Homo sapiens: one gene and its partners. The protein of the gene in region 1 interacts with the protein of each later gene in a pairwise test. Each region holds a gene or a part of one and is shown in the gene's direction. Other genes may lie near its edges.

Region 1 (7,034 bases):
ACTAAGAGGGAAGGAGAAGGAAGGAATGAAGATGGGAACTGCCTAATGGCTGAGGTGGGGGAGGGATGCAGTAGGAAGTGCAGGTGCAAGGACCAACATCTAGCCGGGAAGTACTGGTAAGTGGTTAGAAGTAAATTGCCTGGTGCGGTGGCTCGTGCCCATAATCCCAGCACTTTGGGAGGCTGAGGCGGGCAGATCACGAGGTCAGGAGATTGAGACCATCCTGGTTAACACGGTGAAACCCCCTCTACTAAAAATACAAAAAATTAGCTGGGCATGATGGTGGGCACCTGTAGTCCCAGCCACTCCAGGTTCCCAGGTGCAAGTGATTCTCCTGCCTCAGTCTCCCAAGTAGCTGGGAGTACAGGTACCCGCCACCATGCCTGGCTAATTTTTTTGTATTTCTAGTAGAGACAAGGTTTTACCATGTTGTCCAGGCTGGTCCCAAACTCCTGACCTCAGGTGATCCGCCTGCCTCGGTCTCCCAAAGTGCTGGAATTACAGGCGTGAGCCACCATGCCCAGCCTCAAGTAGCTTTTAAACAAGCTCACTGAGATGAGAGGTGAGGCGGTGAGCTTAGAATAGGTGGTTAGGAAGTGATTAAAGTAGGGGTTTCCAGTGCTGGCTCTATACTAATCATCTGGAGAGGTTGTAAAAATACTGATTGTAGAGAGTCTCATACCTTCACTCTATTGGGGTAGGGCATGGTGTCACATTTTGTAACATTAACTAAATCTTCATAGGTGTTTGCTGTAAAACTCCATGAACTTCAGTGTGCACACCATCTAGGTTCTACCACCAGCATTTTTTTTTTTTTTTTGAGACAGTCTCACTCTGTCACCCAAGCTGGAATGCAATGGTGCGGTCTTGGCTCACTGCAACCTCTGCCTCCGGGTGCAAGCAATTCTGCCTCAGCCTCCTGAGTAGCTGGGATTGTAGGCGCCTGCCACCATGCCCGGCTAATCCTTGTATTTCTTAGTAGAGACAGGGATTCATCATTTTGGCCAGGCTGGTCTTGAACTCTTGACCTCATTATCCAACCGCCTCAGCTTCCCAAAGTGCTGGGATTATAGGCATGAACCACCACGCGCCCCCCGCCCCCTTTTTTTTTTTTTTTTTTTTTTTTTTTTTTTTTTTTTTTTTTTTTGAGAGGGTCTCTGTCACCCAGGCTGGAGTACAGTGGCCCAATCTTAGGTCACTGCAACTTCCACCTCCCAGGCTCAAGCGATTCTCCTGCCTTAGCCTCCCAAGTAGCTGAGATTGTAGGCATACGCCACTACTGAGTGCCTGTTATATTTTTAGTAGAGATGGTTTCACCATATTGGCCAGGCTGGTCTTGAATACCCGACCTCAAACGATCCACCTGCCTTGGCCTCCCAAAGTGCTGGGATTACAGGCGTGAGCCACTGTACCCGGCCTGCTAGCATTTTACTGTTATCCTCCATCTACTGACCTACCTTATTCTACTTGGAAATGCATCAAAAGCCACTTAAGCTCCTAGGTGACTCTAATACGCAGCCAGGCTTGCAAACCTCTGAAGCAGAGGCTCATACGTCAGGGTGGCATTAAGGGACAAAGTAGAAACTTTTCAAAGATGACATCGATGCCACTTCACCTCCTCCAGCAGCTGCCTTGTGGGAAGAGAAAGATCAACACACAGATCAGTAGGGTAGCAAAAGGGAAAAGCATCTAATATTGATGAGATGGCCTGAAGCTCTCAGTGGTGGGCCCTGCTTCAGTGGGGCTGGGGATAAAGGAGGGCAGATTTGGGAAAAGAGTCCTGGCCCTCGGATCAGTGACCGATAGCTCCTTAGGGGAGAGGATCCTGGTTGTGGGAGGAAGTCAAGATTGACCTCAGGTGTGGCCATTTGGGAAGAAGATGGAGAGAAGTTTTCACAGAGGTGGTAGCGGTCAGCATGGGTATGGACTGAGGTGGTTTCTCAATCTCTGGGGGTTGAGGGGTAACTAAGACCAGAGAACAGTGCTGTTTAATGGAAGATAGTCTGAGCCCTTGGAGGGCCCCCCTTCAAAGGTAGGATTGATGATGCCTCAGTAGACTATGTCCCATGGCACAAAGAAGGAACAACCCTATTTCAGAGCAATAGGGTGGCTGGGCACGGTGGTTCACATCTGTAATCCCAGCACCTTGGGAGGCCGAGGTGGGAGGATCAGAGTTCAGGTGTTTAAGGCTGCAGTGAGCTATGATGGTGCTATTGCCCTCAACAGAGCAAGACCCTGTGTACTTTTTTTTTTTTTTTTTTTTTTTGGACAGAGTCTCGCTCTGTCACCCAGGCTGGAATGCAATGGCATGATCTCGGTTCACTGCAACCTCCACCTCCTTATTCAAGCCATTCTCCTGCCTCAGCCTCCCTAATAGTTGGAATTATAGGCACTCAATCACCACGCCTGGCTAATTTTTGAATATTTAGTAGAGATGGGGTTTCACTATGTTGGTCAGGCTGGTCTTAAACTCCTGACCTCAGGTGATCCACCTGCCTCAGCAAGTGCTGGGATTACAGGCATGAGCTATCACACTCCCCTCTTTTTTTTTTTTTTTTTGTTTTTTTTTGGGGGGAAATGGAGTGTCACTCTTGTTGCCCAGGCTAGAGTGCAATGGCGTAATCTCAGCTCACTGCAACTTCCCATCTCCCAGGTTCAAGCAATTCTTCCATTCCAGCCTCCCAAGTAGCTGGGATTATAGGCACCTGCCACCATGCCCAGCTAATTTCTGTATTTTTTTTTTTTTTTTTAGTAGAGATGGGGTTTCACCATGTTGGCCAGGCTGGTCTCAAACTCCTGACCTCAGGTGATCCACTGACCTCAGCCTCCCAAAGTGCTGGGATTACAGGCATGAGCCACCACGCCCAGCCTAGACCCTGCTTCTAAAAGGCCGCTATAGGGGAACTGCCCTGGGATCTTAGACTCCAGTTAGCACCAGAAAAACATACTAGGAAAAAGCTAAGGATGAAAGTACATTTCCTTTGTGGAATAGACAACAGGGCCTTGGAAGCTTCTTACTTGCAGGGCAGGTGGCTAAGATGGGCAGCTGGACAACTGCTAAACTGGCTTGTTTCTAAAAGTCTGAATTTACATGGTTTCAAGTTTCTCTGCTGGTGTACTTGGCCACTAGGTGGTGACTGAGGCTTGTGGCTCTGAGGCTTCTGCTGGAAGGTGGCAGAATTGCCATGCTCTGCCCGAGGTTGAGCAGGGAGGAATTTTAGCCCTGCCTGAAATATGAAGGGAAACTGACCTGGGGACGGGCCAAGGCTAGACTGAGCCCTGGCTCTGTCAGAATGGCCCCTAGCCCCAGCAGCAGGATGGAATGTCAGTCTAAAATGAGAAGGCTTGGCCAGGTACGGTGGCTCATGCCAATAATCCCAGCACTTTGTGAGGCCAAGGCAGGTGGATCACTTGAGGCCAGGAGTTCAAGACAAGCCTGGCCAACATGGGGAAACCCCATCTCTACTACAAATACAAAAACTAGCCTGGTGTGGTGGTGGGTACCCGTAATCCCATCTACTTGGGAGGCTGAGGCAAGAGAATCGCTTAAACCTCGGAGGTAGTGGCTACAGTGTACTCCAGCCTGGACTAGAGACAGACTCCGTCTCAGAAAAAAAAAAAAAAAAAAAGGGTAGCGGGGCAGTGCTTACAGGGTAGTTGACTATTCCCTGGGTGGTGGGGGGTCTTTCAGCTCCCAGCAGGAGCTCATATTGGGTTCATTCCCTCGTACTTGTCTAACGAGGGTGGGTAAACGTTTCCCAGAGGCCAGGACTGTCAGGGTATCAGCCTGGTGAGTCTTCTGGTCGTCATATCCCTTACAGGTGAAGGGAGACTGACGTAGGCTTGACTAATAGCAGAGGTATGTGCAAGGAAGAAAAGCCCAGGGAAGCTTGCCCAAAGAGTGAGCCATCAAACTCAAGTCTGGCCGGGCGCAGTGGCTCACGCCTGTAATCCCAGCACTTTGGGAGGCCAAGGCAGGTGGATCACAAGGTCAGGAGTTCAAGACCAGCCTGGCCAAGATGGTGAAACCCTGTCTCTACTAAAAATACAAAAAAATTAGCGAGGCATTATGGCAAGTGCCTGTAATCCCAGCTACTTGGGAGGCTGAGGCAGGAGAATTGCTTGAACCTAGGAGGCAGAGGTTGCAGTGAGCTGAGATCGTGCCATTGCACTCCAGCCTAGGCAACAGCAAGACTCCACCTCAAAAAAAAAAAAAAAAAAAACCTCTTAAGTCTGAAATGGAAACTCCACAGAAGCAAGTCCAAAAGGCTTCTTTATGTGCCCAAGGACCTCAGGTCCCAGAAACAACTTGGTCTTGCCTTAGCTGGCAATACAGTGACTACATCCCTGAAGAAAAGTAGCTTGTCAACTAGTCAAGTGGCAGGTGGCAGCGTCAGAAGCCCAGCTAAGCTGCTAGCTATTAAGGTGTCTACCACTCACCTCGGTCACCTGGGGATGGGCGCGGGTTTAGCAATGCTGAGTTAAGCCCAGGACTGGCCAGGCACGGATAGCTGGCACCTGTAATCCCAGTACTTTGGGAGGCTGAGGCGGACAGATCACTTGAGCCCAGGAGTTTGAGGCCAGCTTGGGCAACATGGCAAAACCTCATCTCTGCAAAAAATCCAAAATTAGCCAGGTGTAGTGGCTTGTACCCGTAATTCCAGCTGCTCATGAGGCTGAGGTGGGAGGATCCCTTGAGCCCAGGAGGTCAAGGCTATAGTGAGGCATCATCATACCACTGTACTCCAGCCTGGGTGACAGGCCCTGTCTCAGAAGCCCAGGGTCAAGCATGCTCAATGATTGGGTAAGTTTGGAAAAGATCAGGGGAATAAGTGGTGGATTCCAGTCTAAAACTAGTTGCTACTTGCTCTAACATTGGGTAAGTGAACCTTTACACCATCTTAGAGATGAGGCTCTTCCTTCCCCCTGTTTATTTTATGAGACAGTCTCACTCTGTCAGCCAGGCTGGGGTGCAGTGGCATGATCTCGGCTCACTGCAACTTCTGCCTCCCAGGTTCCAGTGATTCTCCTGCCTCAGCCTTCCAGGTAGCTGGGACTACAGGTACCCACCACCACGCCCAGCTAACTTTGTATTTTTAGTAGCGATGGGGTTTCACCATGTTGGCCAGGTTGGTCTCGAACTCCTGACCTCAGGTGATCTACCCGCCTTGGGCTCCCAAAGTGCTGGGATTATAGGTGTGTGCCAATGCACCCGGCCCCTTCTCACTCTTTAAAGGGTTGAGGGTTATAAGAGAACTGGTGTGTTAAACTCCCAGGCACAGCCTGGAACTCGGCCTGGAAATAGCTGTTATTCCTTGCAGATATACATCACCTGCCACCTGAAGGTCACCCTAGCTGAGCAGGACCCAGATGAACTCAACAAGGCCTGTTCCTTCAGCAAGCCTTCCAACAGGTGAGGAGGACAGGTGCTCCGTGACTGGAGTAGAAACTGAATCGGCGACCCCTTGTCTATTTCCCCCAATATATTATCAGCAAACTGCTTCCTGCAGGCAACAAAAATCTAAGCTGCTTCTCTTTCATCTCAGCTGGTTCCCAGTGGAAGGCTCGGCTGACATCTGTCAATGCTGTAACAAAGGTGACTGTGGCACTCCAAGCCATTCCAGGAGGCAGCCTCATGTCATGAGCCAGTGGTCCAGGTCTGCTTCCCGTAACCGCAGGCATGGTATGTCACAGAATGGCCAAGAGGCTGTTCATTGTCCCTTACTCAGTTGAGGGTACCTGCTGTCATTTCAGGGTGATGGTATTTTCCCTTGTCCTCCATTAAAACTGTTTGTACCTAGGCCTGCAGCTACCTTTCCCTAACACAAATCTTGGGGTTAAGCAGGAGGGGCTCTCAGCCTTCCACCTCGGTGGCAGCCAGGGAGATCTGCTGTCATCCTAGGCTTCTACTGAGACATAATTAGGCATGTAGGGGAAATATAGCAGTTGTTAAGATAATCTGGCTTGGCATAGTGGCTCAGGCCTGTAATCCCAGCACTTCGGGAGGCCAAGGCGGGCAGGTCACCTGAGGTCAGGAGTTCGAGACCAGCCTGACCAACATGGAGAAACCCCATCTCTACTAAAAATAAAAAATTAGCTGGGCGTGGTGGTACATGCCTGTAATCCCAGCTACTTGGGAGGCTGAGGCAGGAGAATCACTTGAATCTGGGAGGCAGAGGTTGCAGTGAGCCGAGATTGCACCATTGTACTCCAGCCTGGGCAACAAGAGTAAAACTGTCTCTCAAAAAAAAAATAATAATCTGGCCAGAACAGTGGGTTGTGCCTATAATCCTAGCACTTGGGGAGGCTGAGGCCAGGGAAATCGCTTGAGCCCCATGAGTTCTCGACCAGCCTGGGCAACATAGCAAGACCCTGTCTCTACAAAAAAGATGATGTACTAGGGAATCCCTCTTGGGTGACCTGCTTTCTCCGTATGAGAAAGCTGTCTTTTTCTTTTTTCTTCCCCCTCCCCTGCACCAAGATGGTGTCTAGCTCTGTCCTCCAGGCTGGAGAGCAATGGCACGATCTCTGCTCACTGAAACCTCTACCTCCCAGGTTCAAGCTATTCTCCTGCCTCAGCCTCCCAAGTAGCTGAGACTACAGGCATGTGCCACCATGCCCAGTTAACTTTTTTATTTTCAGTAGAGACGGGTCTTGCCGTGTTGGCCAGGCTGGTCTCAAACACCTGACCTCAGGTGATCTGCCTGCCTCAGCCTCCCAAAGTGCTGGGATTACAGGCATTAGCCATCACACCTGGCCGAGAAAGCTGTGTTTTTTTTGTCTAGAAACTGTTTATTAGCCCACACAAAAAAGACAACATATTAGTTTAGCCCACTGAGGCAGAATAAAACCTCCAACCCAGTTCCCGGTTAGGGACTAAGATAACCCTTGGTTGTGTGTTCTCCTTTCACAGTGACAGAAGAAGCAGATGTCACCGTGGGGCCACTGATCTTCCTGGACAGGAGGGGTGACCATGAAGTAGAGCAGTGGGCTTTGCCTTCTGACACCTCAGTGGTGCTGCTGGGCGTAGGCCT
Region 2 (7,034 bases), on another chromosome or scaffold:
GGCAACATAATGAGTCCCTGTCTCTACAAAAAAAATTTTTTTTTAAACACAGAGTTTCACTCTGTTGCTTAGGCTGGAATGCAGTGGTGCGATCTCGGCTTACTGCAACCTCTGCCACCCGGGTTCAAGCGATTCTCCTGCCTCAGCCTCCCGAGTAGCTGGGATTACAGGTGCCCACCACCATAACCAGCAAATTTTTGTATTTTTTAGTAGAGATGGTGTTTTACCATGTTGGCCAGGCTGGTCTAGAACTCATGACCTCAAGCGATCTACCCACCTCGGCCTCCCAAAGTGCTGGGATTACAGGGGTGAGCAACCGTGCCCAGCCCAGATTTTTTTTTTTTTTTTTTTTTTAGATGGAGTTTTGCTCTGTTGCCAGGCTGGAGTGCAGTGGTGTGATCTCGGCTCACTGTAACCTCTGCCTCCCAGGTTCTAGCAATTCTCCTGCCTCAGCTTCCTGAGTAGCTGAGATTACTGGAATGTGCCACCACATCCGGCTAATTTTTGTATTTTTAGTAGAGACAGGGTTTCACCATGTTGGCCAGGCTGGTCTTGAACTCCTGACCTCGGGTGATCTGCCCTCCTCGGCCTCCCAAAGGACTGGGATTACAGTCATGAGGCACCACGCCTGGCTCAGAGTTTTGCTCTTGTTGCCCAGGCTGAAGTGCAATGGTGCAATCTCCGCTCACTGCAACCTCTGCCTCCCAGGTTTAAGCAATTCTCCTGCCTCAGCCTCCCTAGTAGCTGGAATTACAGGCATGCACCACCATGCCCAGCTAATTTTGTATTTTTAGTAGACATGGGGTTTCACCATGTTGTTCAGGCCAGTCTTGAACTCCTGAATGGAGATGATCTGCCCACCTTGGCCTCCAAAAGTGCTGGGATTACAGGCGTGAGCCACCACACCCGGCCCAAATCTTATATGGTTCTTGAGGGAGCCTAGAATTCAGAATTCTCTAAAATGAGTGTGAACAAAAGATGGCTTTTCCTGTGCTTAGGGTCCATGTTATAATGTATAGAAGGGGCCAAGAGTAATGTATCCTGTATACCGACATTTAGCCACTTTTTTATTTTGAGACAGAGTCTTGCTCTTGTCACACAGGCTGGAGTGCAATGGCACGATCTCAGCTCACTGCAACCTCTGCCTCCCAGGTTCAAGTGATTCTCCTGCCTCAGCCTCCTGAGTAGCTGGGATTACAGGCGCCCACCACCATGCCTGGCTATTTTTTGTATTTTTAGTAGAGACAAGGTTTCGCCATGTTGGCCAGGCTGGTCTCGATCTCCTGACCTTGTAATCTGCCCACCTTGGCTTCCCAAAGTGCTGGGATTACAGGCATGAGCCACGGCTTCCGGGTCCACTTTTTCTTATAACAGCAAAATGTAGGGGGGAGCCAAGGGACTTTTCTCTTCCTTGAAGACTTGAAGATGTTTTTAAGATTTTTTTTTTTTTTTTTTTGAGATGGAGTCTCGCTCTGTCACCCAGGCTGGAGTGCAGTGGCTTGATCTCGGCTCACTGCAAGCTGCGCCTCCCGGGTTCATGCCAGTCTCCTGCCTACTCCCAAGTAGCTGGGACTACAGGTGCCCGCCACCATGCCCGGCTAATTTTTTTGTATTTTTAGTAGAGACCATGTTAGCCAGGATGGTCTTGATCTCCTGACCTCGTGATCCGCCCGCCTCGACCTTCCAAAGTGCTGGGATTACAGGCGTGAGCCACTGCGCCCGGCCTAGATGTTTTTTTAAGATTAATTCTTAATTCAGATCTCTGGCGCTATAGAAGGTAGGGATTCCTAGTGTTATCAGGAGGAAATTTTGGTAGATTCTTCTATTTGTTGCTGAAAAATTTCTTCTTGATTCAAATCAAGTTATTCCACTAGTAGATCTCCACGATTTCCTTAGTATGAGTAGATATGCTCTATTTTGTTTCTCTGAGATTTTTCTCTTCGTTACTCACAGTGAATCATCCTCTACAATTTCATCTAACCAGAGTCAGGAGTCTGGTTATCAGAGCGGCCCAATTCAGTCGACAACCTATACCTCCCAAAATAATGCTCAGGGCCCTCTTTATGAACAGAGATCCACACAGACTCGGCGGTACCCCAGCTCCATCTCTTCATCACCCCAAAAGGACCTGACTCAGGCAAAGGTAGTGGCTTCATGAACCCTTGGGAATTGGTTAGGAGAATAGTGGGCAAAAATTCCTTAAATATTAGTGTTTTACTTTTCAGCAAGTGGTGCTAAGAAACTTTGGAAGTAGTGATTGAGAATTTGAAAAAGGCACACATCTGTGGCTAGTGAATTAAAAGTTCTTATCAGCAAACCCGGAGACTGAAGAGCCAGGAAACCATTCTCTTTGTACTAAAAATTCATTGCCTCTAGTAGAATCAGTCTCAAGTGCCTGTCCTGTCTTCTGGGAAGATGTGATTGCCAGATTTCTGGGTGCGTGTCAGTAGACCTCACCTTGCTAAGTCCTGGCATGGTGAGGGAGACAGCATGTGCCAGAGGTGATGTGGAGTGAGTGTCAGATGCAGCCAGCGGAATAGGTGGTGTGGCTGAACTGTTGTACTTACCCTTCCCCAAAAATCACTGGATGTGGACTTTGGGCCTTTCCTCTATCTGTTTTAGGTTTGGGGTGTCTTCAACAATTTGTAGGGTTTCCTTCTTTTGCTTTTGGTCACACAGTGTTGGTATATCTCAGTTTTGTTGTTTAATTTTTGTTCCTATTTTGGTTTTTTGGATAGTCTACATTGTATTAATATTAATCCTTTTGGTTAATTTACAGAGTTTCTCCTAAAGATTTGTTGACCAAAATAAAGCTGCATCAGTGCTAACTTTCCTCATTCACATGAGTTTGTCTGTTTCTTGCTCTTCTGTTTTTTTTTTTTTTACCAGAATGGCTTCAGTTCTGTGCAGGCCACGCAGTTACAGACCACACAATCTGTTGAAGGTGAGTGTTCTTCAGGCTTTTCCCCTCCTAAGTTTCTGGTTTTCTATCTTAAAATGGTGATAATCCATTAGTTCCCTTCACTGGACAATTGAGACCCATGCTGTGTAATTCTCAGCATTAAAGAAAAAAGATTCTACCTAATATAGTCCATTGTTAAATAACTCATCCTTTTGTCTTTGGAACTGCCTTGGACTGTGGTCACCTCTCTATAGACATTCCCTTTTTTCTGATGAGAGGAATTCCTTTCTTCTAAATTTCTAGGTGCTACAGGCTCTGCAGTGAAATCTGATTCACCTTCCACTTCTAGCATCCCCCCTCTCAATGAAACGGTATCTGCAGCTTCCTTACTGACGACAACCAATCAGCATTCATCCTCCTTGGGTGGCTTGAGCCACAGTGAGGAGATTCCAAATACTACCACCACACAACACAGCAGGTGATTTGGGGTGAGGATGGAGGTTGGGGTTGGTGAATAGCAATAACAGAGCTCTCTGGTCCTTATTACTCCCTTGACCTGGCAGAGACCACATTAGCCCTGCTTTTGTCGTAAGTGGGTGACCTAAGAACTGTGGGAAGTGAAGACAGAGGAGGCTTGTTTTAATTTTCCCCTTTCAACATCCACTTTTGCTTTAACTGCTCTCTACCCCTGGCTGGCCATTGTGCTTAACATATGATCTCAGACCTCCTTGGTGTCCCATATTATGTCTTATTTCCTTGTTATGTTCTTGACTGAAGCTCCAGGTCACGTAACTATAGCACTATGGCTGATGGCAGCCTCTTTTTTTCTGACAGCACGTTATCTACGCAGCAGAATACCCTTTCATCATCAACATCTTCTGGGCGCACTTCGACATCCACTCTTTTGGTAAGTGTGATGCTGAGAGGGATGTGTGGTTTTCTTACACTTAGAACTGTCCAACTGTAAGATTGTCCCAAGAGAGAATTATTGAAAATTTCTTCATGAGGTGGCAAAATAATTGATTTGAGGTTGCAGGAAAAGGAGTAAAGGGATGTTAGGAAGCCAAGAGAGGCAGAAGAATCCCTAAACATTGAGCTCTGGGTCATTCCTAAAAGCCCTGAAAGTGACTTTCTGATTTTTTTCCCCTACTGAATATATAGTTGGGCTTTGTATGCTTTAATAAATTCTGGAAGAACATACCTTTCCAACTGGTAGAGCTGTTCTCTTTCCTTGGTCTTGGGTATGCCCAAGTTCTGAAAAGAATCAGTGCAAGGCTGGACATTTTTGTGAAAGTAGATGCCAGGTGAGAGCTTTTGGTCCAAGAGTCAATTTTATTGTTTTGATTTGTAACAACTATTAATAGAATTAAGCTGAGCCTGTAAAGGGAAGGACCCATTTTGGACAAAAGTATCAGATTTGCCGGAAGCCTGGGGAGGTATGAGGGCTAAGGCTCCTTTAGGAGTCTCTATTCAAATACACAGTTTCAGATTTAAAGTCAGAATTGTGGACAGGTGCAGTGGCTCACCTCTGTAATCCCAACACTTTGGGAGGCCAAGGCAGGAGGATTGCTTGAGCCCAGGAGTTTGAGACCAACCTGAGCAATATAGTGAGACCTCATCTCCATAAAAATTTTTTGAAGATTGGCCAAGCATGGTGGTACATTCGTAGAGTCCTAGCTACTCGGGAGGCTGAAGTGGAAGGACTGTTTGAGCCCAGGAGGCCAGGGTTGCAGTGAGCCAAGATTGCACCACTGCACCCCAGCCTGGGCAACAGGATGGGACCCTGTCTCAAAAAAAATGTAAAATCAGAATTTTTGCTTTTTCCTAGTCCACAAACTGGTCTCAACTAGTAAAGAAAAGTTGGGGAGAGAAAGCTGTGATATATTTTTTACATCTCAACTCTCTCTGTTCCTTTATCAGCCAGTGTTAGTCTCTGGGGAATCTGTCTCCATTTGCTTTACTGTCTTTCTGAACAGGATGATGATGTGCAGTGAGTCTGTTACCATTCTTGCCAGATGAGTCTTGAGGAATATGTAGCTGGAGATTATTTCTAACTACTTTAGCAGGGTGTACTTTGGTACCTTGCCTACTTGGCCTCTTTAATTAGGAAGTTGACATCATAATATATTCAGCAGGAGGGATTGTCTTATTTTTCCTGACCTATGATGCTGATCTCTTTTCTTCTTCTCTCTTCCACTGCTCCCCCTTTTGAAGCACACAAGTGTGGAGAGTGAGGCGAATCTCCATTCTTCCTCCAGCACTTTTTCCACCACATCCAGCACAGTCTCTGCACCTCCCCCAGTGGTCAGTGTCTCCTCCAGTCTCAATAGTGGCAGTAGCCTGGGCCTCAGCCTAGGCAGCAACTCCACTGTCACAGCCTCGACTCGAAGCTCAGTTGCTACGACTTCAGGTAGCCTTGCATAAGCAGATGGCATTCCTCTGGGATGGAGGAGGTAAGTAATTGTGTGATGGGATAAAAATGTAATTTCTCTTTTAGGAAAAGCTCCTCCCAACCTCCCTCCTGGGGTCCCGCCGTTGTTGCCTAATCCGTATATTATGGCTCCAGGGCTGTTACATGCCTACCCGGTAAGTGGGACTAAAGGATCTTCTTCAAAAGGTGAGGATGTTGTGGCTACTCTTTTTATAGCTCTGGCTTCAGATGGACCCCTGTGAATACCAAAACTTGCACATACTCAAGCCCTGCAGTTGGCTCTGTGGAATCCATGTATATGAGTTTTGCATTCTGTAAATGTGGCCGTATTTTTGATCTGTGTGTCTGGTTGGAAAAAATTCATATATAAACAGCGTGCAGTTCAAACCTGTGTTAAGGGTCAACTGTAATTAAAATATAAAATAAATGAGGGATTGCCACATGTAATCAAACTGGTTTTTAATCTTTGCAGTTTTGGAAAAAATACTAAACTGAGGCCAACCCATCTATTGTGTATCTGCTTTGGTTTATGGTGCACACATGTATGCATGTGTGTGTGTGCGTACAATGTGTATGTATATGTGTGATGAGAATATCTGCCCTGTTTGAAACACAGCTTCTGGGCCTCAGAAGCCAAAGGCCAGAATGTTCATCTGGAATCCTTTTTGGTTTCTTAGATAATTATGACTATTATTTTATTTTTTGAGGCAGATCTTGCTCTTTTACCCAGGTTGGAGTACAGTGGAACGATCATAGCTAGCTCACTGCAGCCTTGAACTCCTGGGCTCAAGCAATCCTCTCACCTCAGACTCCCCAAGTAGCTAGGACTACAGGTGTGCATCCCCATGCCTGGCTAAGTTTTAAAAATTTTTTTAGAGACAGGGTCTTCCTATGTTGCCTAGGCTGGTCTCAAAATCCCAGGTTCAGACAGTCCTCCTGCCTCAGCCTCTCAAATAACTGGGGTTATATATAGGCCTGAGCCACTACTCCTGGCCCCAAGAATTATTTTCTCTGATTTGATTAAATCCCTAACTCTGAGTGTGTTTGCTGGTCTGGCCTGGTTAGAGGAAAGTTTCCTGACTCAATCTGGGACTTTGAGAATAAGTGGCTGACATTAGTAGCTTTTTGCCCTAGTGTATCTTCTGTGACCTTCAAGTATTTGGTACCTATTAAGATGAAGGATATATGGAAACGTTTTAGAAGATACCTGTTCCTGCCCTCATAGACAAAGTCTAGATAAATTTCATACCGATGACACATCCAAATAACACAGTTACACATTTTTAATTTGTGGTCACTACCTTAAAACCCTGACATTGGAGAAAAGTGAAGTATTCTTTCCAGAGGAGATTATTTTTAAGCCAGATTTTGAAGAGTATAAGAGACAGAGACTTGTAGAATAGAGAGTAAAACTGGTTGTTCGTGTATGTTTTGTGTCTACTCTATTGGTATCAAGAAGCCAGCCTACTAGAATCAGTAGTATTTAGCTCAAGGAAAGCTTCAAGACCTTTCATGAATCATTTAATCTCTGTGTACTTTACTGCTTTTTCCTTAAATAAAATTGAAGGAAATAATCCGTGTCCTGTTCTAACCCAGAATGAGGATGAATGTTCTGTTGAATTAGCTTGTCTCTTGGCTCCTTGTTTTGCTAACATCATGACCAGTTCCTGTTATTGCTATATGTCTGTATCTTTCAGCCAC
Region 3 (7,034 bases), on another chromosome or scaffold:
GCCTGCCTCGGCCTCCCAAAGTGCTGGGATTACAGGCGTGAGCCACCATGCCTGGCCGAGCCACGTAGGTTTTTTTTTTTGAGACGGAGTCTCGCTCTGTCAGCCAAGCTGGAGTGCAGTGGCATGATCTCTGCTCACTGCAAGCTCCACCTCTTGGGTTCACGCCATTCTCCTGCCTTAGCCTCCCGAGTAGCTGGGACTACAGGTGCCCGCCACCATGCCTGGCTAATTTGTTGTATTTTTAGCAGAGACGGGGTTTCACTGTGTTAGTCAGGATGGTCTCAATCTCCTGACCTCGTGATCCACCTGCCTTGGCCTCCCAAAGTGCTGGGATTATAGGTGTGAGCCACCGCGCCTGGCCAACCACGTAGGTTTTAAGCAAGGGAGGGATGTGGCTGGAAAAAATGTGCAGGGGAGGGTGGCTCCGCTTCTGAGATCCAGAATCATGTCCAGGCATTCATTTGCAATATTGCCAGCGCATTGCACAGGAGAGAAGCTGAGGCCCAGGTCCCACATAATGTGTAGGGAAGTCCTCAGTGATGGGTTGGGAGGATCTCCGTGAGAATAGGAGTGGCCTAGAGTGAGGGCAAGAATCATCTCCTAAATTGGTTCAGGCTTCTGGGGCTGTGGGCCCTGCCTGGGTGAACCCAGTGTTGGCCCAGGGCTCTGCTGGGACGAGGGTTGTGGGGGCTGGGCCATCCCTCCGCACCACCCGAAATCCAGACATGCTTAAGCTCCTTTGAGGGCGTGGACCATGTGGGTTTCATTTCTGTGTCCTTCATCTTCCCCAGAGCCAAGTAGAACTCCGCAGGCCTCTGAAGACTCTCAGAAAATATATGTGTTACCAAAACACAGATGTTAATTAGGGACAGAGATGGGGGTGGAAGAAAACCTGCAGGATCCTGAAGGTTTTTTACAGTTTTCACACTGTTTTCAACATTGATTCATTCAACAAACATTTACGGAGCATCTTCGAAATTTGGGGAACTGTGTAGGGAGTTGGGGGCACAGAGTAGCTAGAATGTGACCCCAGCCTTCTTGGAACACTTCTGGGGTGACCGAAATAAACGGCTGAGACAAGTTGCTTTTGTCTCATTTGGTCTTGGAAAAAGCCTCTGTTGGGGGCTGGGTACCATGGTGTTTTCCTCGCCCTGTTGCAGTGTCCTGAACCGGACCGGGAGACAGAGGTTTCGAGAGGTGAAACACCTTGCTAAGGTCGCACTCTGAGGCAGTGGCAGAAAAGGGGAGCTAGGGAGGCAGCCCAGGGGAGAAGGAAGTGGCCTGGTCAGAGTGGCAAAAAGGGAGCTGGTGCCCAGACATAGTCACCTTGCCTCTCCCCGTCCACCCAGCCCTGGGGCACCAGACCCCTTCCAAGGTCCTCAAGCAACTCTTTCCTGCCCAGGGTTCACAGTCCCTGGCCCCTGCCTGGAAAAGTGTTGGGGGCAGGAGGAGGGGGCTGTGCTTACCTGGCTCCCTCATATCTGCGAGGCCTGCCCTTTACCAAGCTGGGACTCCACCAGCTTGGGAGGTGGTATTAGTGCTTTTCCTGATTTGCACATGGGACAATGAATGCTGGAAGGACTGCTGATCCCCCCAACCCCATGGTCACATGGGAATTCAGCCCTCAGAGGCGGCGTGGCCTGCTCTTGCCTCTGCCCACCCATCTCCGGCAGTCAGGGCTGCAGTTTTCAGCCATAGAAGGGCAAGGCTGCATGCGGATGCACCCAGGAGGCTGCCCGGCGGGAAGACTGAGCTGTCTCTGCTGGTTTCAGCGGCCTGGAGTGGGGAGGGAGGAGGGGGATAAATAAAGCCTGCAGGCCAGCCAGCTGTCCCGTGCTGGGGCCCCCAGACAGGCCCTGCCACCTCTCACCTTTCCTAGTTTAGAAAATCCCTCACTGCTTCCCCAATGGAGGCTGCCCCAGGAGTGGCCCAGTGGGGCCAACCAGCTGTTCTATGCCAGCAGCTCCGGAGTATGTACATTTCCACTCTGGTTCAAACTTGTTCTTCTATTCACGGCCCCATTAAGAAAAACATTCATCTGCAGGCTGGACCGGGTTGGGATGCAGCAAGTTGGTGTGGCTACTCCGAGTGTGTGACACACCTGCAGGGGCCTGTGAGCAGTGGGAGGGCCAGACATGTGGATTCCCAGGGCTGGTGGCTTCCTTTCTCCAGGCCTCAGTGTCCTCATCTATAAAATGAGATCAATTCTTGCCAAACAGAGTTGCTGTGAAAAGAAAGTAAATGAGACAGAGGAGCCCAGCACTGCGCCCTGGGGGAGGTCACATGCGGGTCTTAGTTATGTCTTTGCCACGGACTCCAGGGGTGGCTTCCTGCAGAGAGGCAAAGGATCTTAAGCTTGAAAGCCTGGGCTTGAGCCTCACCCCTTCCCAGTGATTTCCTAGCCTCTGCTTGGATGCCTCCAGGGCCCGTGATCTCATGCCCTGCCCTGCCCTGGCAGCTCCAGCTCTAGCAGCGAATGTTTGCTGCCTCAGTTTCCCCCTTAGTAATCCACAGACTCCCCCCCAGCAACCCTGCTGAGGTTGATGCTGGCTGGGACAAGGTCTTCTCTGTTCAGCTCCTTTCTGACTCTGACCCCGCCCCTATTTCCCAGTCACCTCCCCTCTTGACCAACCCTCCTCCCTTTGCCTCTTGCAGAGATTTTGATTCGCTTTCCAAGGACAATGTCTTCGAGAATAACCGTTTGGTAAGTTCCCGGACAGGTGGAAGCCCAAGAGGCTCTGTGTATGTGTGTGTGTGTGTGTGTGTGTTTGGTGGGGAGGGCAGGGGTCTTGCACGGTGGCTGCCCTTGTACACCGGCCCTGGCTGCACCTTTCCCCACCCTCTGCTTCCCACCAGCCTCCTCATGCATGGAGCACCAGGCTTCCCCTTTCTCCAGGCCATCCTGTGGTGCTTGGGTGGGATTAATACTGAGGGGAGCCCACAGTCACCCCATCCCACTGAAGGGAGCTGGGCCTAGGCTGAGGGGTCGCCCCCTAACGCCTCCTCCTCTTCCTGCTTCGGCTGCTCCCGCCCTTGTACCTGTCACCACCCCAGGCCTTTGAAGTGGCTGAGAAGGAGCTGGGGATCCCCGCTCTCCTGGACCCCAATGACATGGTCTCCATGAGCGTCCCTGACTGCCTCAGCATCATGACCTATGTGTCCCAGTATTACAACCACTTCTGCAGTCCTGGCCAAGGTGAGAGGGGGACTCAGCGTTTCACGGAGGCTGGCCCAGGGGGTGGCCCTGGGGATGTCTGATGCTTGCTACTGGTTTTCTGAGTTGTAAACAGGCTGCTGAGGAGTGTGTCATTCATTTACTTATTCATTAATTCACTCATTGAAATATTTCTTTTTTTTTTTGAGACAGAGTTTCGCTCTTTTTTTTTTTGAGATGGAGTCTTGCCCTGTCACCCAGGCTGGATTGCGATGGCACGATCTCGGCTCACTGCAACCTCCGCCTCCTGGGTTTAACCTCCTGCCTCAGACTCCCAAGTAGCTGGGATTACAGGCACCCGGCACCACGCCCGGCTAATTTTTTGTGTCTTTAGTAGAGACAGGGTTTCACTATGTTGGCCAGGCTGGTCTCAAACTCTTGACCTCGTGATCTGCCCGCCTTGGCCTCCCCAAGTGCTGGGATTACAGGCGTGAGCCACTGTGCCCAGTCCCACTTTTTTTTTTTTTTTGAGACGGAGTTTCACTCTTGTTGCACAGGCTAGAGTGCAATGGCACGATCTTGTCTCACTGCAACCTCCGCTTCCTGAGTTTAAGCAATTCTCCTGTCTCAGCCTCCTGAGTAGCTGGGATTACAGGCACCCACCACTACACCTGGCTAATTTTTGGTATTTTTAGTAGAGATGAGGTTTCACCATGTTGGCCAGGCTGGTCTTGAACTCCTGACCTCAGGTGATCTGCCCGCCTCAGCCTCCAAAAGTGCTGGGACTACAGACGTGAGCCACTGGTGCCCGGCCTGACATATATCTTGAGTAAAAGAGCCTGTGCTGGGCTCTGGGGATGCAGCTGTGAATGTAATCACTGCTGAAGTCCCGTGGGGGAGATAGACACCAAACACACCCACCAGAAAATGAACACAATCATATCAGAGGAGACACAGCAGGTTGCGTTCATCCGCTGCATGGAGTCCACCTCCCCGGCACCCACCCTCACTTCCTGTTTGCAGACACTTCCTTGGGTTTTTCCTCCAGCAGGGAAGTGGCTCTGTCTGGTGAGGCTGCTGTGCTGTCTTCCACAGAAGTGACTGAGAGCTGAGAGGCTGGGGAACTGGGGAACCAGAGTTGCAGGGGCTACAAAGTGACTCGGTTCTGAGTGAGGTCACTGGGCATTCCCATGCAAGGACCTCCCTTGCAGGTAGCTGGGCCTCCCCTTCTGCAGAGATGAGATAGGCCTAGAGAGGGGAAGCAAGGAGCTCAAGATCACACAGCAGACAAACTGAACAGCTGGGTTGAGAATCCAGGTGTCCTGAATCCAACGCTGGATTCCTGCTGTCCCTGGGTCTGAGTAGAGCCCATTTCAGCCCCTCCCTCCTGCCTCTGCTGTCGGTCTAGACAGTTCTGGCCCAACTCTTTTTTTTTTTTTTTTGATACAGAGTTTTGCTCTTGTTGCCTAGGCTGGAGTGCGATGGCGCGATCTCGGCTTACTGCAACCTCTGCCCTCGGGGTTCAAGTGATTCTCCTGCTTCAGCCTCCTGAGTAGCTGGGATTACAGGCATGCACCAACATGTCCGGCTAATTTTTGTATTTTTAGTAGAGATGGGGTTTCGCCACTTTGGCCAGGCTGGTCTCAAACTCCTGACCTCAGGCGATCCACCTGCCTCGGCCTCCCAAAGTGGTAGGATTACAGGCATGAGCCACTGCGCCCGGCCCTGGCCCAACTCTTTAAAGTGTTTTATGAAGTCAGAGGTTTCTTTTCTTTTCTTTCTTTTTTTTTTTTGAAATGGAGTTTCACTCTTCTTGCCCAGGCTGGAGTGCAATGGCGCGGTCTCAGCTCACTGCAACCTCTACCTCCCGGGTTCAAGCGATTCTCCTGTTTTAGCCTCCCAAGTAGCTGGGATTACAGGCACCCGCCACCACACCCGGCTAATTTTTGTAGTTTTAGTAGAGACGGGGTTTCACCATGTTGGCCAGGCTGGTCTCGAATTCCTGACCTCAGGTGATCCACCCACCTCAGCCTCCCAAAGTGCTGGGATTACAGGCATGAGCCACTGCACCCAGCCATCTTTTCTTTCATTATATATATATATGTATATATATACATGCATATACATATATATGTACATATATTATGTGTATATATGCGTGCGCGCACACACACACACACGCACATATATGTGTATTTTTTTTGAGACAGGGTTTTACTCTGTTGTGTTGCCTAGGCTGGAGTGCAGTGGCATGATCACAGCTCAATGCGTCCTCAACCTTCCTGGGCTGCGGTGATCCTCCTATCTCAGCCTACTGAGAAGCTGGGACTACTGGTGCATGCAACCACACCCAGCTAACTTTTATATTTTTTGTAGAGGTGGAGTATCACCATGTTACCCAGGTTGGTCTTGAACTCCTAAGCTCAAGGGATCTACCCTTCTCGGCCTCCCAAAGTGCTGGGATTACAGGCATGAGCCACTATGCCCAGCCATAAATAAATAACTTTAGGAAAAAAAGAAAAAATAGCCGGGTGAAGTGGCTCATGCCTGTAATCCCAGCACTTTGGGAGGCCGAGGCAGGTGGATTGCTGTTGAGACCAGACTGGGCAACATAGCAAGAACCTGTCTCTACCAAAATAAAAATAAAAAAATTAACCAGGCATAGTGGTGGCACACCTGTAGTCCTAGCTACATGGGAGGTTGAGATGGGAGGTTTGCTTGAGGCCAGGAGTTTGAGGCTGCGGTGAGCTATGATCACGCCAGTGCACTGCAGCCTGGGCAACAGAGCGAGACCCCATCCCTAAACAGAAAAAATAAACAAGAAAATTTAGAACATGGCAAAAGCAGAAAAATTAAAATAATGTCTTATACCCCTTCCCCCTGATGTAACACTAGGGATTAAAATAATTGAACAAATAACATTATGTATATTTTAATAGAAAACAAAATGAAAGTATTTCCAGACCCCAGAGGCTCTGGTGAGAGGCAGTCTAAGGTTGGGGTTAAGAGCATGGACTCAAAATTTTCACTCTGCCATTTCCTCTTTGGGTGACCATGGGTCAGTTATTTAACCACTCTGCCTCAGTTTCCCTTTTGCAGTGAGGATAGGAATAACACCCATCTCACAGGGTTGACTTGAGGAGTAAATGAGGAAATGTATAAACCAGTGTTTGGCACCTATTTAGATTAGTATTCTTTTTTTTTTTTTTTTTTGAGACAGAGTCTCGCTGTGTCATCCAGGCTGGAGCTCAGTGGCACAACCTTGGCAGACTGCAGCCTCTGCCTCCCATGTTCAAGCGATTCTCATGCCTCAGTCTCCCAAGTAGCTGGGATTACAGGTGCGCACCACCACGCCTGGCTTAATTTTTGTATTTTTAGTAGAGATAGGGTTTCACTATGATGGCCGGTCTGGTCTGGGATTTCTGACCTCAAGTGATCCACCCACCTTGGCCTCCCAAAGTGCTGGGATTACAGGTGTGAGCCACTGCGCCCAGCCAAGATTAGTATTCTTACTACTTCTTATTTCACTGATTAGCGTTTAGCTGGATTCCTTAGAATCGCAATTCAGCCTTAGCCTGCGGCCTTCCTTGTGGCCAAACCTGAATCTCTCTCTACTGAGCTCATCTCTGGGACTCTGCGGGGTGGGTGGGGTGTGGGCAGCTGTTGGTGGTACGCAGCTCATTCGTTGGCCCTCTCTGGGCAGCCTGGTGGGCAGGGGCAGCCCTGGTGGGCACAGCTTACCGTGCTGAGTGTGGGCATGGGCACTCCCTCGCCCTGCAGGGATTCTCATTGATAAAGGTACAGTTTGTGGCAGACAGTCCTTTGTTATGCTGCCTGTATTTTCAGCCTCGCAATGTATTTTCATACCTTCTCTAATAAA
Region 4 (4,102 bases), on another chromosome or scaffold:
AAAGCAGGGTCATAATTTGTGATCTGTGGTGGATTTCTAGCAGTCATCACAGGCTTCTACTGAAAGTCCTGAAAAGACCTTGCAGTAGTCCAAGCTACACCAAACATTAACACATATTTGTGGTAAACATTTCTGTATAAAGTTACCTGACACACATATAAACACAAGGAACATTCCATATCATTAGTCGAAAACAAAAACAAAAAAAAAACCTTTGGTCATTTGTAAGACATCTCATGTCATATAAAAGTTAAATGTAAAAAGATACAGTCCATTTTGTCCTGCACACACGTAGACTAATTCACGTCATTAAAGAAGAAGAAAACTTAAAGATTTAAAATGCCTATTTAGCATTTTAGTGTCCAACAAAGATTTAAACAATGATGAATATGTTTTAAATTTGACATAGAAAAGTTCTAAAAAATAGTTACCATTGAGTGGTAAGATTCAGAGAAAATTAACTTGATTAATATGTTTTATTCATTTGTGGACACTAAAATAGCTCAGGAAAGTGAAAATGTCTTAGACATACGCAAGTCACATGACCATTTAAATGTGCAAATGTAAGAAGATTCAATGTGTTTACATCAAATGACATATTTTATTGATTTATTGCAGATTCAGTGCATATGAGCCAAATTGTTGAGTGTGTAAGAGCTATATTGTGTATTTTATTAAATTAATATATAGTTGTGTTGCAAAAATATTTGGGCTTATATTGTAAATGGCAAGTGTTGCCTTGGTAGCTGTCGAACTCTATGAGTTTTGTTTTTTCCTGCTTCCTTTTCCCCATGGAGTGTGGGAAGCAGTGCCTCAGAGCAAAGTCTCTTGTTTAATGTATAGTCTACCAAGTACTACAGTACATAATCTGTTCAAAATGTGTTTGAGTGAGCTGATGGAGCTAACTGAAAGGTCAAAAATTACATCCATCAGTCATGGTTATGTGCAAGTCCTTGTAGAAGCTTTTATTAAAGTCATGCTAAATCACAAGAATTGACATTTGTACCAATATCTGAAACTTCTTCATGTTTTTTCAATAACATACAGCTTCTGCCTGTGTAGATATTATGCCATCAGTTGGTTCTCAAAAGTATTTTAAGTGCTTCAGATGTGTGTTCCCATTATATTTTGAAAACATGAAAAATGCTTTAATGCATGTATGTACCAGCAGTGGTTACTTGCATTGTGTAGTGTTTTTCAAGAGGTCTGGGTCTTAACAAAATGTTTTCCTTTATCTCAGTGCTCTTCTGCCTCTTTTTGTTGGTGTCCTTTGAGAACAATACACCTTCTATTCCTTCATTTGGTTACACCTTTCCTTGTGACATTTAGCGAGTTTCAAACTTACTTCCATATGAGGCTAAGAAACCTCAAATTTCAGGAATTGGGAAAAATAAAATTAGCACTTGCAGAAGTAGCAGCAGATGGGAAAATGCCTTGATTGACATTTTCTTTCAGCATTTAAAATTTTTGGCATTTTACAGCTTCATGACAAACAGTTTTGTGCCCATACCTTAGAAAATGTGGTGCTGAGTTAAATAAAGGCTGTTTGAGCACTGGAGCAGAAAAATGCATTATTTGCAAACTGGTGGATAATTTTGTGCCTTCTCTTCTGGCCACCAAGCCAGTGTAGAAACAGCAAAAATGTCATAAAAATTCTTATATTTAAAACAAAAACAAAAGCAAAAACAAACATTGAATTAAATTAAGTTTTGTAATTTTAAACTTTAAAAACTTCTACTGAAAATATTTCCGCCAAATGCCATCAATATTTTAGACTGTACCTCGTTTGCAAAACTGCTTTGAGAGGGAAGAGTGGACAACTCCCATCAGCCTTATTCTCTTGAGAACTATATTTTGGTTCCTAGTAACAGCCTTTCCAAAGCTCTACTCTTGGTTTTTATTACTCATAAATGTTTAAATTAGAAAAGAAGGGACCTTGTACATGTGAAACCTAATTGACTCTCTATATTTTGGACAATTTATGTATCTGAAATGTGTTGTCTCTGTTATATGATGTTATTTTTGCCAGGAGACTACAGGTTGATTTAGCTTGATAGCTGAAATTTGATGGAAAACTGATTTCCATTTAGTCTTACCAAGTGTTGCTTCTCTCTTACTAGACAGATATCCACTTAGTAAAATCTAAAGCAGTATGTAAATGAAACCAGCAAAGAGAGTAGGGTTTATTTTATAAACATTCTTAATGCTAAGTAACCAGTTGTTCAATTTATTATATGTGTCTGAGGACATTAAAACACCATAAGGTTGTAATAATTGGTTGTGCCAATGTGTGAGGGATTTACCTTTAGGCTCTCTGTCACCAGTGATTTACTAGTGTTAGCTGTTTAACACATTATCTGTATTTAGTAGTGATTATTTATTTACAAGTTGGTGGTAATTCAGCAGTCAGGACTCTAAGCTTTTATAGTTGAATTGAGGAAATCTCGCTTTTATTCATTTAGCTGGCAACTGCCTTTATTGCAGACCTCTGGTGCTTGGCTTTCAAGGAAGCCTATGAGATGCCAAAATCACACCTTTAGAGAGCACCTTGCTCTAATAGGTGATGCATGAGCAAACAGTGAGATTTGAAGGGGTTTTAACATAATTTAGAATGTGAAAAAAATATCAATTCATATCTTTCAAGTACTAACCCCTCAAAAAAGCCCACACATACAAAATATGTGATGTGATACCACTTTGTCTTTTAGGTCTTTAAGTAACTGAAGTTAAGCACAGAAAAAAAAATCACTTCATGGAAATTTCAGTAAGAAACCCAAACTTCTAAAAATTGCTTGCAGATGAGCTAAAAAAAAAAAAAAAAAAAAAAAGCAACAAAATAACCTTTTCATCAGAGTTAAAAGTAGTGAGAATCTGTTAGTTATACGTATACCAAAGTAAACATTAAAGAGACATATCATGCAATTTCAAAGAATTCTTTCATGCTATTTCTTAACCTGACATTTCTAACTTTATTGCAGGCAATATACAAAGATTGGCTCACTACTCCATAGGTTAATTGAATTCCTGGTTGAGAAACTAACTTGTTTTGTTTTCCAAAATTAGCTGAAATCTTGTAAAACATGACTTCCCTTTAAAGGATCTAGATATTGTTCAATTTAAAATATGGCACCATAAAAAAGTCATGTAGTAATAGAGCATATGCTTTTTTAGAACCAGGTTAAAAGCTGTTTGTTATCTAATAGAGTAAAAGTTACTGAGGTCAACAGATAGACAGGTCTGGCATAATATATGCCCAGTCATAATAGTCTAATTATATTCTTTTGACAACAGACAGCATTCATCAGAGCACTAATTCGAATGAGAGTTTTGGCTATCAAGATGTGTTGATTCTAAATATTATTGAATGAGACCTGATTAAAGTCTGACTTTCCTGGCCCCAGTGTTTTGCAGGTTGGCTATTTCCATTATCAGCCCATCACTCCATAAAGTTCTTAGCTGCACCAAGTGATTGGTGAACAAGGACAACAACAAAAGCAGCATACATTGTATGGATTTATCTCAACGCTATTGTTTAATGGCTGTGTTTAATGTGATCTATCTGGAAAATGAGGACTCCGAATAAAAAGCTATTACTAATAGTGGTGTTGCCTTCCCTTGAATTCATTAACCCAGAAGGGATGTGTTACACACTTCCCTGTGCATATCACAGGGACCCTGATCATAATTATTTTGGAAAAGCAAACTGTGGCATCACAGCTCATTTTGCTAGTTATCTGCTTGCCATTAAAATAAGACTTTTTTAAACAAAAATTACTTGATAGTATCACTAGTTTCTCAATAGAAGTGGATTAACAATCTTTCACATAGCTTAGATAAATTGGCTAGTTAAATAATTACCAAAGGGTCATAGCCTAATAATATTTGTGGTTTTAAATATTTACAATTAATATAAAGAGAATTTGGCATAAGATCTCAGAGGATTTCAGAAAAGTACATTTATAAGCTCTGTCATAATCTTACATGACTAATGAAAGCAAATAGAATAGTCCTCTCTCATCCGCAGGGGAAACGTTCTGAGACCCCTAGTAAATGCCTGAAACTCCAGATAGTACAGAATCCAATATATACAATATGTATAAAT

The links.
Region 2: the proteins of ZP3 (region 1) and UBAP2L interact in a two-hybrid assay, tested with the Homo sapiens proteins (one study listed by BioGRID and IntAct).
Region 3: the proteins of ZP3 (region 1) and MICALL1 interact in a two-hybrid assay, tested with the Homo sapiens proteins (one study listed by BioGRID and IntAct).
Region 4: the proteins of ZP3 (region 1) and PCDH17 interact in a two-hybrid assay, tested with the Homo sapiens proteins (one study listed by BioGRID and IntAct).

What each region holds. Positions count from the first base shown.
Region 1 is NC_000007.14:76,434,929-76,441,962, forward strand, and holds part of ZP3 (zona pellucida sperm-binding protein 3 isoform 1 precursor), read left to right. Parts: intron 1-5,321; coding exon 5,322-5,413; intron 5,414-5,546; coding exon 5,547-5,683; intron 5,684-6,913; coding exon 6,914-7,034. UniProt on the Homo sapiens protein: Component of the zona pellucida, an extracellular matrix surrounding oocytes which mediates sperm binding, induction of the acrosome reaction and prevents post-fertilization polyspermy.
Region 2 is NC_000001.11:154,251,947-154,258,980, forward strand, and holds part of UBAP2L (ubiquitin-associated protein 2-like), read left to right. Parts: intron 1-1,953; coding exon 1,954-2,143; intron 2,144-2,889; coding exon 2,890-2,944; intron 2,945-3,205; coding exon 3,206-3,380; intron 3,381-3,736; coding exon 3,737-3,809; intron 3,810-5,116; coding exon 5,117-5,312; intron 5,313-5,399; coding exon 5,400-5,488; intron 5,489-7,030; coding exon 7,031-7,034. UniProt on the Homo sapiens protein: Recruits the ubiquitination machinery to RNA polymerase II for polyubiquitination, removal and degradation, when the transcription-coupled nucleotide excision repair (TC-NER) machinery fails to resolve DNA damage.
Region 3 is NC_000022.11:37,909,297-37,916,330, forward strand, and holds part of MICALL1 (MICAL-like protein 1), read left to right. Parts: intron 1-2,655; coding exon 2,656-2,704; intron 2,705-3,054; coding exon 3,055-3,196; intron 3,197-7,034. UniProt on the Homo sapiens protein: Lipid-binding protein with higher affinity for phosphatidic acid, a lipid enriched in recycling endosome membranes. On endosome membranes, acts as a downstream effector of Rab proteins recruiting cytosolic proteins to regulate membrane tubulation.
Region 4 is NC_000013.11:57,725,713-57,729,814, forward strand, and holds the end of PCDH17 (protocadherin-17 precursor), read left to right. Parts: 3' UTR 1-3,599; downstream 3,600-4,102. UniProt on the Homo sapiens protein: Potential calcium-dependent cell-adhesion protein.